Linked DNA regions of Homo sapiens. The protein of the gene in region 3 purifies or fractionates together with the protein of the main gene of each other region. This does not show direct contact. Each region holds a gene or a part of one and is shown on either strand. Other genes may lie near its edges.

What was found. The genes of interacting proteins can lie anywhere in the genome.
Region 1: the proteins of ZIC3 (region 3) and MYH14 purify together in Homo sapiens (affinity purification with mass spectrometry; one large-scale study listed by BioGRID and IntAct). This does not show direct contact.
Region 2: the proteins of ZIC3 (region 3) and RBM33 purify together in Homo sapiens (affinity purification with mass spectrometry; one large-scale study listed by BioGRID and IntAct). This does not show direct contact.
Region 4: the proteins of ZIC3 (region 3) and MYO1C purify together in Homo sapiens (affinity purification with mass spectrometry; one large-scale study listed by BioGRID and IntAct). This does not show direct contact.

Annotation. Positions count from the first base shown.
Region 1 is NC_000019.10:50,206,622-50,210,121, reverse strand, and holds part of MYH14 (myosin-14), read right to left. Parts: intron 1-3,500. UniProt on the Homo sapiens protein: Cellular myosin that appears to play a role in cytokinesis, cell shape, and specialized functions such as secretion and capping.
Region 2 is NC_000007.14:155,738,661-155,742,160, reverse strand, and holds part of RBM33 (RNA-binding protein 33), read right to left. Parts: intron 2,447-3,500; coding exon 2,135-2,446; intron 343-2,134; coding exon 55-342; intron 1-54. UniProt on the Homo sapiens protein: RNA reader protein, which recognizes and binds specific RNAs, thereby regulating RNA metabolic processes, such as mRNA export, mRNA stability and/or translation.
Region 3 is NC_000023.11:137,569,127-137,572,602, forward strand, and holds the end of ZIC3 (zinc finger protein ZIC 3), read left to right. Parts: intron 1-764; coding exon 765-944; 3' UTR 945-2,976; downstream 2,977-3,476. UniProt on the Homo sapiens protein: Acts as a transcriptional activator. Required in the earliest stages in both axial midline development and left-right (LR) asymmetry specification. Binds to the minimal GLI-consensus sequence 5'-GGGTGGTC-3'.
Region 4 is NC_000017.11:1,466,187-1,468,686, forward strand, and holds part of MYO1C (unconventional myosin-Ic), read right to left. Parts: intron 2,311-2,500; coding exon 2,217-2,310; intron 2,123-2,216; coding exon 2,067-2,122; intron 1,938-2,066; coding exon 1,802-1,937; intron 1,725-1,801; coding exon 1,654-1,724; intron 1,392-1,653; coding exon 1,294-1,391; intron 1,156-1,293; coding exon 1,056-1,155; intron 1-1,055.

The sequences.
Region 1 (3,500 bases), on a different chromosome or scaffold from region 3:
TTTTTTTTTTTTTTTTTTTTTTTTTGAGACGGAGTCTCGCTTGTTGCCCAGGCTGGAGTGCAATGGCGTGATCTCAGCTCACTGCAACCTCGGCATCCAGGGTTCAAGTGATTCTCCTGCCTCAGCCTCCCAAGTAGCTGGGATTACAGGCGTCTGCCACCACGCCCAGCTAATTTTTGTATTTTTAGTAGAGACAGGGTTTCACCATGTTGGCCAGGCTGGTCTCGAACTCCTGACCTCAGGTGATCTGCCTGCCTCGGCCTCCCAAAGTGCTGGGATTATAGGCATGAGCTACCACACCCGGCCCCGGCTAATTATTTTCTTTTTTTTTTTTTTTTGAGATGGAGTCTCACTGTGTCGCCCAGGCTGGAGTGCAGTGGCACGATCTCGGCTCACTGCAAGCTCCGCCTCCTGGGTTCACGCCATTCTCCTGCCTCAGCCTCCTGAGTAGCTGGGACTACAGGCGCCTGCCACCATACCCGGCTATTGTTTTCTATTTTTAGTAGAGACAGCGTTTCACTGTGTTATCCAGGTTGGTCTCGATCCCCTGACCTGGTGATCTGCCCGCCTCGGCCTCCCAAAGTGCTGGGATTACAGGTGTGAGCCACCGCGCCTGGCCAATTATTTTCAATTTTTGTAGAAATTAGGGTCTCACTATGTTGTCCAGGCAGGTCTTGAACTCCTGACCTCAGGTGATCCACCCTCTTCAGCCTCCCAAAGTGCTGGGATTGCAGGCGTGAGCCACCACTCCTGGCCAGGCTCAGTTCTGGGCACTGACAATGGAGCAACAGACAAGCTGGAAGAAGACGCCTGCCTCCAAAAGTTTACTTTCTAGCCCCGGGCTGTCCACTGCAGAAGCCACCACCACCTGTGCACTACCGGGTACTTGCAATGTGGCATGTGTCACTGAGGAAACACATTTTCAATTTCATTCATTTAAATTCAATCTATTTTATTTTATTTTGAGATGAGGTTTCACTCCGTTGCTCAGGCTGGAGTGCAGTGGTACAACCACGGCTCACCACATCCTTGACTTCCCAGCCTCAGGTGATTCATGTCTGAAATTTATTAATTAAAAAATAAATGTATTAACAGGCATGCCACCATGCCTACTAATTTTTAAATTTGTTTTGTAGAGACAGGGTCTTCTATGTTGCCCAGACTGGTCTCAAACTCCTGGGCTCAAGCGATCCTCCTGCCTTGGCTCCCCAAAGTACTGGGATTACAGGTGTGAGCCACCGAGCCCCATCTTAAAATTTAAATATAAATATCCCCATCTGGAGTTCTAAGTGTAAGATACACACCAGATTTCCAAGACTTAGTACAACAAAAAGATAGTTTGCTGAGATTTTAAATATTTGATGACATGCTGAAATGATAATATTTTCAATCTACTGGGTTAAATAAAATATATCATTAAATTAATGTTACCCGTTCCTTTTTTACTTTTATCATTAAATGTGGCTACTAGAAAATGTTACATTACACATCTGGCCTGTATTATATTGCTATTTGACAGAGCTGCTGTAATCCCAGGAGACAGATAAAAAGATTAAAAATGTAAATTAGATAGTATGGTTTTTGTTTTTTAAAAATTCTCTCTCTCTTTTTTATTTTTTTACAGAAACCAAATATGGTATGTTTGGTGGGTTTGTTGGGTTTTTTTGTTTGTTTGTTTGTTTGTTTGTTTGTTTGTTTTTGTTTTTTGAGACAGAGTCTTGCTCTGTCACCCAGGCTGGAGTGCAGTGGCTTGATCTTGGCTCACTGCAACCTCTGCCTCCCGGTTTCAAGAGATTCTCCTGCCTCAGCCTCCCAAGTAGCTGGGATTACAGGCGCATGCCTCTATGCCTGGCTAATTTTTGTATTTTTAGTAGAGATGGGGTTTCACCATGTTGGCCAGGCTGGTCTCAAACTCCTAACCTCAGGTGATCCGCCCGCCTGGGCCTCCCAAAGTGCTGGGATTACAGGCACGAGCCACCATGCCCGGCCAGATAGTACATTAAATGGTGATAAATACCAAGGGGAGGAATAAACCAGGGGACAGGAAATGTTAGGGTTGAGGATGTTGAAGTTTTCATTAGGGTGGCCAGGGAGGGCCTCTCTGGTGTGGCATTTAAATGAAGACCCAAGGGAGATGACAGGAGCGAGGAAGGGGGTTGTTGGGAGAAAAATCATTCCAGACAGCAGTGCAAAGGTCCTGGGGCCACAATGCATCTGTGTGGCTGTGTCACTGTGAGGTAGGCAGCATGGCTAGAGCCAAATGATCGAGGGGCAGAGGGTGGGAGGGGATGTAAGAGAGGGGACAAAAGGTACAACCTTGCTTTTACTCTAAGATATGAGCCCAGGGTGGGAATTGACCTGATTTTTGTCATTCAGGTTCCCTGACCACCTCTGGTCACGCCTATCTCATGCCTGCAGAATAGACTCGAATCTCACTGCTTCAGTGAACAATTCCTTCCTTCTCTGGAACCTGACTCCTTCTCCATAAAATGGGGAGACTGGACCCATTCATTCAACTCTCTGAGGACTTTCAAGTACGAGACTCCGCCCCGAGTGGGCCTGAGGACCCAGAGAAGAGTAGGCTGGGAGCCCTGCCTGGAGGAGCTCCTGGCCTAGGGGTGGATCCAGCTCCAGCTATCTCGGAGGCAACCAGGTGCTGGGGGAACTAGAATGTGTTAGGCCCCTCCCACCATCCAGCGGGCCATGGGCAGTAGTGGCAATTCCAACGCGGTCCAAGCACCAGGCAGGAAAAATATTCTCCCTATCCTGCTGCGTGGCCCCCTCCTGCTAAAGAAGTCTGCCCCTAGTCTCTCTCTCTCTCTCTCTCTCTCTCTCTCTCTCTCTCTCTCTGTCTCTCTCTCTCTTTCTCTCTCTCTCTCTCTCTTTTTTCTTAGAGATAGGTCTCGCTCTATTGCCCAGGCTGGAGTTGGAGTGCAGTGGCACAATCACAGCTCACTGCAGCCTCAACTCCTGTGTTCAAGTGATCCTCTCACTTCAGCCTCCTCAGTAGCTGGGACCACAGGTGCGCACCATCAGGCCCAGCCTTTTTTTTTTTTTTTTTTTTTTTTTCTGGTAGAAACAGGGTCTCCCTATGTTACCCAGGCTGATCTCAAACTCCTGGGCTCAAGTGATCCTCCTGCTTTGGCCTCCACAGTGCTGGGATTACAGACATGAGCCACTACGCCCGGCCCCTACTCTCATCCACTGCCTCAAATGTCCCCATCACTGCCCCACCACATCAGTCACAGAAACAGTGGGAGATTTCTGTCTCCCCAACAGCAGGACTTCACCTCTGCCCGATAGACCTATATGCAACTGCCGTCCCCACCTCGCTCCCACATACCCCTGGAGAAGTCCTTCTAAACGCCCAGCTGCCCTGGAGGCCCCCCTGGATCTGGTCCCAACAGACTCCTGCCTTTCCCTCAAGCCTCTCCCACGGGAATCCCAGCTCCGCTGAGAGGACCCACTTCCTCCCAGACCCTCTCCTCCCATCCCCAAGC
Region 2 (3,500 bases), on a different chromosome or scaffold from region 3:
ATTCTAAGGCTTCTTGTTTGAGACCAACATTTGTTAATAAGAGCAGTGTCCTACCTCTGTTTCTGTTTTTGCCTCTTCTTTAGGTTGAGCCACAGGGCTAGCTGGCTTGACTTTCACTTCCGTCTTTCCCTGTGAGCTTCTGGAACCCGCCACGGCCCGCGAGGGTGGTGACGCGCTGACGATAGGTTTCACTTGTGCTGAGGGCGTGGCAGAGCAGCGGCTGCTGCTCATTTCTATCACGTGTGACGGCGCTATGGGTAATTCACGCAAATTGCTGTTCCTTGGCGCAGTGGGCTGCATTTGCTGCATGGGCCGCTTGCTTACATTCTGAGAAGTTGTATTCTTTTCACAAAAAGAAAGAGATTCTAATTGTAAGTGGAAACTTGGCAGAAGGAACATTAAAAGGCACATTATTAAATAAAAACACAATAAATCATTCTAATTAGTAAATGACTTCTTTTGGGGAGCAGATACTTTTTTCTCATACTTTTTTTCTCATACATAAATGTCACCTGATCCATGTGGCAGCATGCCTCATCCTAATGTTAACAATTTCCATTGGTAAAGTTGTCATACTTGCCTACAGAGAGGCTCCTCTTCATAGAAATTACACCAGGCTGATCTTTAGCAGGTGCTTCAGTAAAGGGACTGACAGTTTTAAAAGAATTAAGACAGCCAAAAAACCACTCTATCTGCCACCAGAGATCAACGGGATTCACATGCTACTATTTTACCTAGTCACTTAAATTTAAGCTGGAACAAGGAAAGAATCAAGCATCAGGTCAATGTCCTAAGAAACATGACCCCCGGGAGAAGAAAGGTGCCAGAACGTTTTACTCGAGAGGAAATGCTTAGTCATATTCATCCTGGGGATTCTTAAGAGAGAACCAACACCTGGAGGAGGCAAAGAGAACACGAGAGAGCTGGAAGGGGGGAGGGGGGAAGCAGGGGGATCTCCGAGGTCCCGCAGGTCAAATATCCCAGTGCACGAGGGTCATGAGACTAGCCTACCATTATTCTAACAAATGAAACCCAGGTTATAAAGCACCCTCTTCTCAGATTTAGAAATCTTTTCTTACTGTTCACAGCACTTTAGTTGCAATGTTTACTTTAAGAAAGAAAGAGGCAAATATCAGGAAAACTGAGATTCCAAGCAGCTAAGTGACATGACTGAAGCTCAAGGGTGAAAAGAAGACAATACCAAAAGAAAACTGACAGGCGAGAACCCTGACCACTGACCACACTGTGTCTCTTTTTCTAAAAACCAAATTACAAAGTCTCATATATATTTAATGGAGGCAAGAGCCCTGACCACTGACCACTAGCCACATTGTGTCTCTCTTTCCTAAAAGCCAAATTACAAAAGCCTCTTATATATATTTAATGGAGGCAAAAACCCTGACCACTAGCCACACTGTGTCTCCCTTTCCTAAAAACAAAATTACAAAAGCTTCTTATATGTATTTAATGGAGGACAAGGGCAATGACTGTGGCCTTTTATTTTCAGAGCAATACATTGTTTCCCAGTTTCTTTTAATGCACGACAAGTCACACATTTGCTGATGGTGCTTGAGAACACAACCCCACAAATAAATGTATGCTAATCTCCCTCGACTGAGTATAAGCTCCTTGAAGGAAAAGAATTTGTCTCTTCTGTTCACTGCTGTATTTCCAGGACTAGAGTAGCACCTGGCAACAGAACAGTCAACGTATTTTTCCTGAATTCATTTATGTATTTATTCAGGGACCAAAAAGACAGAGATAATCTATACATCAAAAAATAAGCCACTGGTAAAGGGAAAGTGACTACCACCCAAAAGTATTTTCTAAAGTTACGTGTCTATTAATTCCTGTCTATTGCTATAGAAATATCTAGATACAAGAAAGATGCTTAAGTAAATATTAACACAGTCTTTGAGACACAAAAGGAGTATCTTATCAATTCTTGTAGTCAAGAAAACAAATCACCTGAGTGTTTTTTAAAACATGGATTCACTTCAGAACTATGTACTACACATTTTATAAACAGAAATCAGAACTGGAAAATATTCTAACCTACATATTATGCCCCTCAAGTCCTGTAAGTTAAAAGGCCTCCCAGGAAGACACAGGGAAGACACCCCTTGACACTTACATGCCGGAGCCCCTGGCGCTGGGGGCACTGCATCCGGCTGCTGCTGGCCTGAGGCTGAGCGGTCTGTACGTGAGGCCGGAACTGTGGCTGAGACATCGGCATCAAAGGAGGGGGCGGGACGGACAGGTGGTGGTGGTGGTGGTGGTGCTGGTGCTGCGGCGGGTGCTGTGGTGGGTGCTGGGGTGGGGGCTGGTGCTGGGGCGGGGGCTGGTGCGGGGGCTGGTGCGGAGGCTGGTGCTGTGGCGGGGGCTGTTGCTGAGGTTGCTGAGGCTGAGGCTGATGCGGAGGGGGCAATGGAGGATGCAACGGCCCCTTCCATTTCCAAAGAAAGAGAAACAACAGTTCATAAATGGTTACACCGGGCATAATCACTTCAATCATTTCCTAAAAAACCTCAACACAAGAAAGGAACTTTCAGCGATACCAAAACTTCATTTTAGACTTGCTGATGAAGGTAATACTATCTAAAATGCAGTAATAAGCCAGAAGCTATTACCTTAAATTTTATATTTAATCCAGTAATTCTAGGATTGAATTGTCCTAAGGAAAACTAGGTATGCAGACAAACTCATAACTCTAAAGCATGTTCCCTGTAGCACTATGATACTAAAGTACTGAAACCAGTATACACACATGCAACCACACAGACAGCATGAAAGGGAACCGCATACAGCACTCTCAAACGATGGCATCAAAACCAACTCGCTGACATGAAAAGATCAAATGATATGTGACACTGGAGGGAAAAAGCAGGTGGCGAGAAGATGTGCATTTAAAAAAAGACAAAAAAAAAAGCTCCTGAATTGTTTCTAGGTAACGAGAGTATTTAATTTCCTTTCTTATATATACTTGAAAATTTCTGCAATGGGGATGTATTAATTGCATTTTTTTAATAAAAAGAAAAATTCTTAAAAACATTTTATCTTCCTTTAACACCCTAGATAATATTCATTTTCCGTTTTTGGCTTAGATACGTATTCCACGTATTTTTAAATAGTTGATTCAAGTTTACCATCGCTATGTATTTTAATAGTAACCCTACAATACAAGAAGAAATATACACTTGGTAAGAAAGATGTTACAGACGCATGTCAACCCATGAAGCAGAAGCCGATGGGCAGAGGGCACTCAAGGCCTTCAAATAACCAGTGAAAACCCATGAAGCAGAAGCCGGTCGGCAGAGGGCACTCAAGGCCTTCAAATAACCAGTGAACAGCAACATCTTCTTCCCTCCATGCAAAGACTCTTTTCAAAACTGTCTACTGCAGGAATATAATTTGACAAAGTATTTCCACTGGTAAACCTCTCATGAAATTTTATACAGATGAGCAAATGTATTATCAAAACATGTCCTAATTTTATTAGT
Region 3 (3,476 bases):
GAACGGAAGCGCCCGCGCTGCCAACCCTCTGTCTTCCACGTTAAATCCGATTTGCTCCAGCAGTGACACCTTGAACCCATTTTGGGGACCGGGCGGGGGTGGGGGTGAGGGGGTGGGCGGGAGTGAGCAAAGTTGGGAGGGGGAGGAAGCGGAGGGAACAATCGGTTGTTTACTGGGAAGCTCTAGCCGAGCTCGCCTGGGCTTGCGGGGCTGCCGTGGCCGCCTCTTCCCGACTCAGCCCGCGGTGGGAACCGAGAGTAGCCGCGCCGAACCCGAGGGTGGGTGGTTCATTCGCTCTTTGGCTTCGGATAAAACAATAGGGCCGAGGAGTGCAATCTGATTCCCACACATTTGTCTGCGACTTCGCAGCGCTCAGGGCCCCTGTGCCACCTTCTCTGTACCTGCTTTCTCAAGCCGAAACGGGCTTGGTGAAACCTGGGCCCGGAGTTAGTATTTTATAGGACCTCACAGTGTACTGCTTACCTCACTCCATCCGCGGAGAAAGCATTTTTGAAGTGGCATGACCAAAACGGAATGCTTTATTCCTTTTCCGTAACACCAGTCTTAGGAGCAAAACTGGTTTTTGGCGAACATCTCCGGGTTTTCTAGACATCGGTAATACGGATTTTTTTTAAGCAGCATTTTTCTTTTAAGTGGGTCACTGGGCGGTCTTGTTGTTACAGTGCTCGAATTCTGCTCTTGTTTTTGCTTGCACATTGCCAGTTGGAATTATATTCATTATAATATATACATGTTAATTTTAGGTTCATGAATCTCAAGGGTCAGATTCCTCCCCTGCTGCCAGTTCAGGCTATGAATCTTCCACTCCACCCGCTATAGCTTCTGCAAACAGTAAAGATACCACTAAAACCCCTTCTGCAGTTCAAACTAGCACCAGCCACAACCCTGGACTTCCTCCTAATTTTAACGAATGGTACGTCTGAGGACAAACACAAACCCTGTTAATTATAGAATGGACCAAATACATTTTTAAAAGAAAACTGAGACCAATCAGATGGAAATGGAGTTTTAAGGCAAGAGGCCATATATAGGGCTACATCTTGTTAATTGCAATTGTCCAGGAAGGTTTTGGGCAAGATCCAAAAGTAGCCATGCCCTTTTCTCAGGATAGAAAATATGTTTTGGCATTTGAAGCATTTTTTACAAAATCTTTACACTACTTTTTCTTCCCCTTCCTCTTGCTCTCTGCACACCCCATTCTTAAACTCCTCCAATTCATTTTAACACTTGTCCTGTTTCTTGAGAGGAAGTTATAGAAGGCTTGTTGGTGGTGGTGATGTTAAACTGATGGAAATTCTTTTTCGCCTTAGTGGTGATTGTTTAAACTCTCACAGTCTTAAACCGTGCCAAAGTCCTGTTATGTCTTGAACTTTTCCTCAAAGCATTACACTTGTGAATGTATTTTTGTCTAATAGGGTCGAAACTGTTGTTCAGTATTTTTTCAGGCTGAGGATGTGATGTTACTCTACACATTGTGACGTTTAGTATACAGTTGCCTTTTGTAATAACTTTTTTTTTGTAAATACATATCCATTGATGCCATATTTATCGTTTGTAATTTAATTATTGCTACAAGTGCCGGGAACTGAACAATATTTATGGATAAATGTTTTCTAACAAATTCTGTACAGCTTTTGATTATAACTGCTTTAGCATTAAAAATTGTTTTGAAAGAAGAACACAATTTACAATTTTGGAACCACTGACTCCTTTCTCTTGTTTTGTAACAGCCTTCTTCTACAAAGAGGAGATGTGAGCAAATTAAATCTTGTTTGTTGGTATTTATAACTCACTCAGATCCCTTTTTTAATTGTTAAATTATTTTTCTATTACAGTATAAATTCCTTACAGTGTCAGTTTCCATCTGGGAAGACTCTCCTTTCTTTATCTCTATCTCAGATGGTTGTTTAACTGCGAGTTTAAATGTGTTTGTCCTGGATTTTCGGCATGCAAATCAAATATTACTGATCAATTCAGTTAGTGGCCATGACATCTCAATCTTGTACTTCAAAGACTGAGAAGCTGGATTTAATCATCCCTGCCCTACATATATAAACATAAGGTAACCTACTGAATTTTATGTCCCTTAGTTCTTTATTACCTTACATAAAAATGAAAATTGCGGCAGGATGCATGTCTGTCTGTTCTATCTAGAGATCACCCATATACCTATATATGTTTGTATCTATGACTTATCTAATCTGCCTATCAATCTATCTAGTAGCTATCTATATATTTTCAAAAGATAGCTTATGTCTAAAACAGTGGTGATGAGTAAGGCCAGTTGAGCATTGCTTACTTATGGTTAAAGTGCTTCTTAAAAGAACCATAGTCCATTTACAATTTTGGAAGGCAAAGGCTGATTTGTTTGCTGTATATAGTTCAATTCATAATTATCGCAATTATCCATAACATTTATATAGCGGTGTAATAACTGCAGCAGTTCTGAAATGATGCTATGGGAAAAAAATTGCAAAATATGTATTTTTAAAGTTCATGATTTGTAGGCAAAGATGTTAAGAGCATTGTTTCCATTAAAATCAATAACAATGAAAAACGGTTGTTTGCTTTGTGATAAAATGTTAACAATCCATTTAATCTTCAGTGAAGCAACTCATTTGGACAAACAGTTCTTTTACAGTGGTTATATGGAAAAGAAATTGATTGCTATTTTGGGGGGCTGGAGTGGGTAGAGTATTGAGACCTTTTTTATTAGGGTGCTGTTTGTTATTGAGAGCCCAATCTCTGCATGAATAACAGAAAGGTGGACATAAGGAATTGTAAAGTATTTAGAATGTATTGAATAGGCTTAAGTACCTCCTTTAAGGGGCAATGCTCTAGGTTTTTGGTGGCAGTCAATTTGGTATTATATATGATCATTTTCAATTCTAGAATTTTGTTTATTGTTCTTTTTGAAGAAATAAAGTCTTGGCACATCTTATTTATGTTATAACATTTTTGTATTTGGTGCCTGATTTTTTTTCATGTTCAAATAAATCAATCTAAAATTGAAATGCTTACAGAACTTCTGATGATTAAAAGAAACTTTGATTCTGTGAATGCGGTTGAAGCAGTCTATTTAAGTTATCTACTGATCTTTGTCAACAGACAATTAGTTATTGACAGTTTCTAATTGCAAATTGCTTTGGAGGCTATTTTTTGTTAGTGGAGAATAATGGGGTCTTTTGCATTTTCTTCCACCAATATCCAAGCCTGAATGCCATGAACAGAGATTGGGATGACTACACATGTGATGAGCAGGTAACCTGGTCAGTCTATCACTCCCAACCCAGACATTCCGATCTTGACCTTGACATTGAGGGTGCTGGACCAGATTCCTATTTCAGGCTTTTTCCTTCACCTCAAACCAGAGACCATTTTAAATGCTCAGCAAGTTCTCAGAAAGTATATATTCATAAGACTGGCTCTAAGTGTGTTCCATTGTGAAATCTAAA
Region 4 (2,500 bases), on a different chromosome or scaffold from region 3:
CTCATTTTGTCACCCAGGCTGGAGTGCAGTGGTGAGATCTTGGGTCTCATTGCAGCCTCAACCTCCTGGGCTCAAGCAATCCTCTCATCTCAGGCTTCTGAGCAACTGGGACTACAGGCATACGCCACCACACCAGGCTAACTTTTTTGTATACAAATTCTGAGATGGAATTTTGCTCTTGTTGCCCAGGGTAGAGTGTAATGGCGCAATCTCGGCTCACCGCAACCTCCACCTCCCGGGTTTAAGCGATTCTCCTGCCTCAGCCTCCCAAGTAGCTGGGATTACAGGCATGCGCCACCACACTCGGCTAATTTTGTATTTTAGTAGAGATGGGGTTTCTCCAGTTGGTCAGGCTGGTTTCGAACTCCCAACCTCAGGTGATCCACTTGCCTTCGCCTCCCAAAGTGCTGGGATTACAGGCGTGAGCCACTGTGCCTGGCCTTTTTTTTTTTTTTTGAGATGACATCTCACTCTGTTCCCCAGGCCTGGAGTGCAGTGGCATGATATCAGCTCACTGCAATCTCCACCTCCTGGGTTCAAGCAATTCTCCCGCCTCAGCCCCCACTAGTAGCTGGTATTACAGGCGTGCACCACCACGCCCGGCTAATTTTTGTGTTATTAGTAGAGATGGGGTTTCACGATGTTGGCCAGGCTGGTCTCGAACTCCTGATCTCGGGTGATCCACACACCTCGGCCTCCCAAAGTGCTGGGATTAAAGGTGTGAGCCACTGCACCCAGCCTTTTGCATTTTTTTAGTAGATGGGTTTTGCCATGTTGGCCAGGCTGGTTTCAAACTCCTGGCCTCTGGTGATCCACCCGCCTCAGCCTCCCAAAGTGCTGGGATTATAGGCATGAGCCACCGTGCTGCCACCTTTACAACTTTCTGCACTGAGGGGCTCTCTCTGGCCCTCATGGGTGGGCCAAGGGATGGAAGAGGTGGTATGATGGCCTCTGGATGAAGGCCCATGGTGAGGTGCCTGGGCTCTGCCAAGCACAGCCAAGGAAGGCTTGGCTATCACAGCCAGGCCATAAGCGGGAAAGCAGGCCCCACTCACCACAGCCAGGTGCCCGTTCTTGGCCTTGGTGATGAGCAGCTCCGAGCCGGGTGTGAAGTCAATGGTGCCATCCCTGCCGGGGCCCCCTGCAAACGTGATGCTGGGGGAACGGGGTGGGTGAGGGTTTTTCCATGGAGGCAGACCCCCAACCCTAAGGTGGACCCCCACCCTGTCCCTGGGTGCCCACACAGCCCCCTCGCCACCCCCGCCCTGTCCCCGGGGGCCGCCCGCGCCTCACCTGCCCTGGTTGATGTTGATGCTGTTCACGCGGTTGGCACTGAGGGCTGTCTTGGTCAGCGTCTCAATCACGTGGTCACTCTGCAGCACCACATCTCCCTGGGGGGCCAGGCAGGAGGAGGGGTCAGGCCCTGCCCAGAACTTGAGGAACCCCCGCCCCACCTCCCCATCCACCTCCTGACCCCCAAATCCACCCCCATCCACCCTCCCACCTCCCCATCCACCTCCTGACCCCCCAATCTACCCCCATCCACCCTCCCACCTCCCCATCCACCCCCACACCCCCTATTCCCCCATCCACCCCACCTCCCCATCTACCTCCCCCATCCCCCACCACTCCTCCCCATCCATGAAAAGGCACCTTTTGCTTATTGTCCGCACGCTGTACATGAAGCACAAAAAGACTGTCGCTCAGGCTGCTGACAGAGATTCCTGAGGGGAGAGGGCAAAGGTCAGAGGTCGAGGGTCAGAGCAGGGCCCTCCCCCTGCAGCCCTGGACCCTGGCTGACCGGTCAGGTTGGCGTAATCAATCCTCTGCTTGACTTTGGCGTCCTCCACGATGACGACGGCGTTGGGCGTGAGCAGCAGCTGCCGGGAGCGAGGCTTGTAGCCCTTGCGGTCGTATTTCACAACAGGCACCGCATACTGGGGACAGAGGCCAGGCTGAAGGGGCTGGGGAGAGGCTCCCAAGGCTCCGCCCCTGCCCTGACCTGCCTTCAGCTCTCAGGCAGTAGCACCGTGCTGCTGGACTCAGGGCTGCAGGCAGGCTCTTACCTGAATGGGCTCAGAGCCCAAGGCCTGCAGCACTCGGGGGCTGATCTCATCTGTACCTGCAACTCAGATGGCGGGGAGGGAAGTCAGTGGAGGCAATGGGGGACCAGGATGGTGACGAAAGGTCTGAGTGCTGGAAAGTCAGGGGCTCACCAAGCCGAGTGCTGATGAAGAGCCTGGGTACACTCTGAGGGTAATTATCCTTCTTGCCCTTGAAGATCTCACTAGCCACGGCCTTCTGCTGCAGCTGAGGAGACAAGGGGGGTGAGGAGAGTGTCATGGTGGGGAGCACCATCTTGGGGGGGCAGAGCCAGCCTTAGGACCTGAGACAGCCTCCCTCACCCGCTTGCTGGTCCCTCTCTGGCTCAGCACCAGGAGGCTGAGCCCTGCCCCCCACACGCCCATCAACCCTCCACTTCCTGACCCTCTGCCGCCAC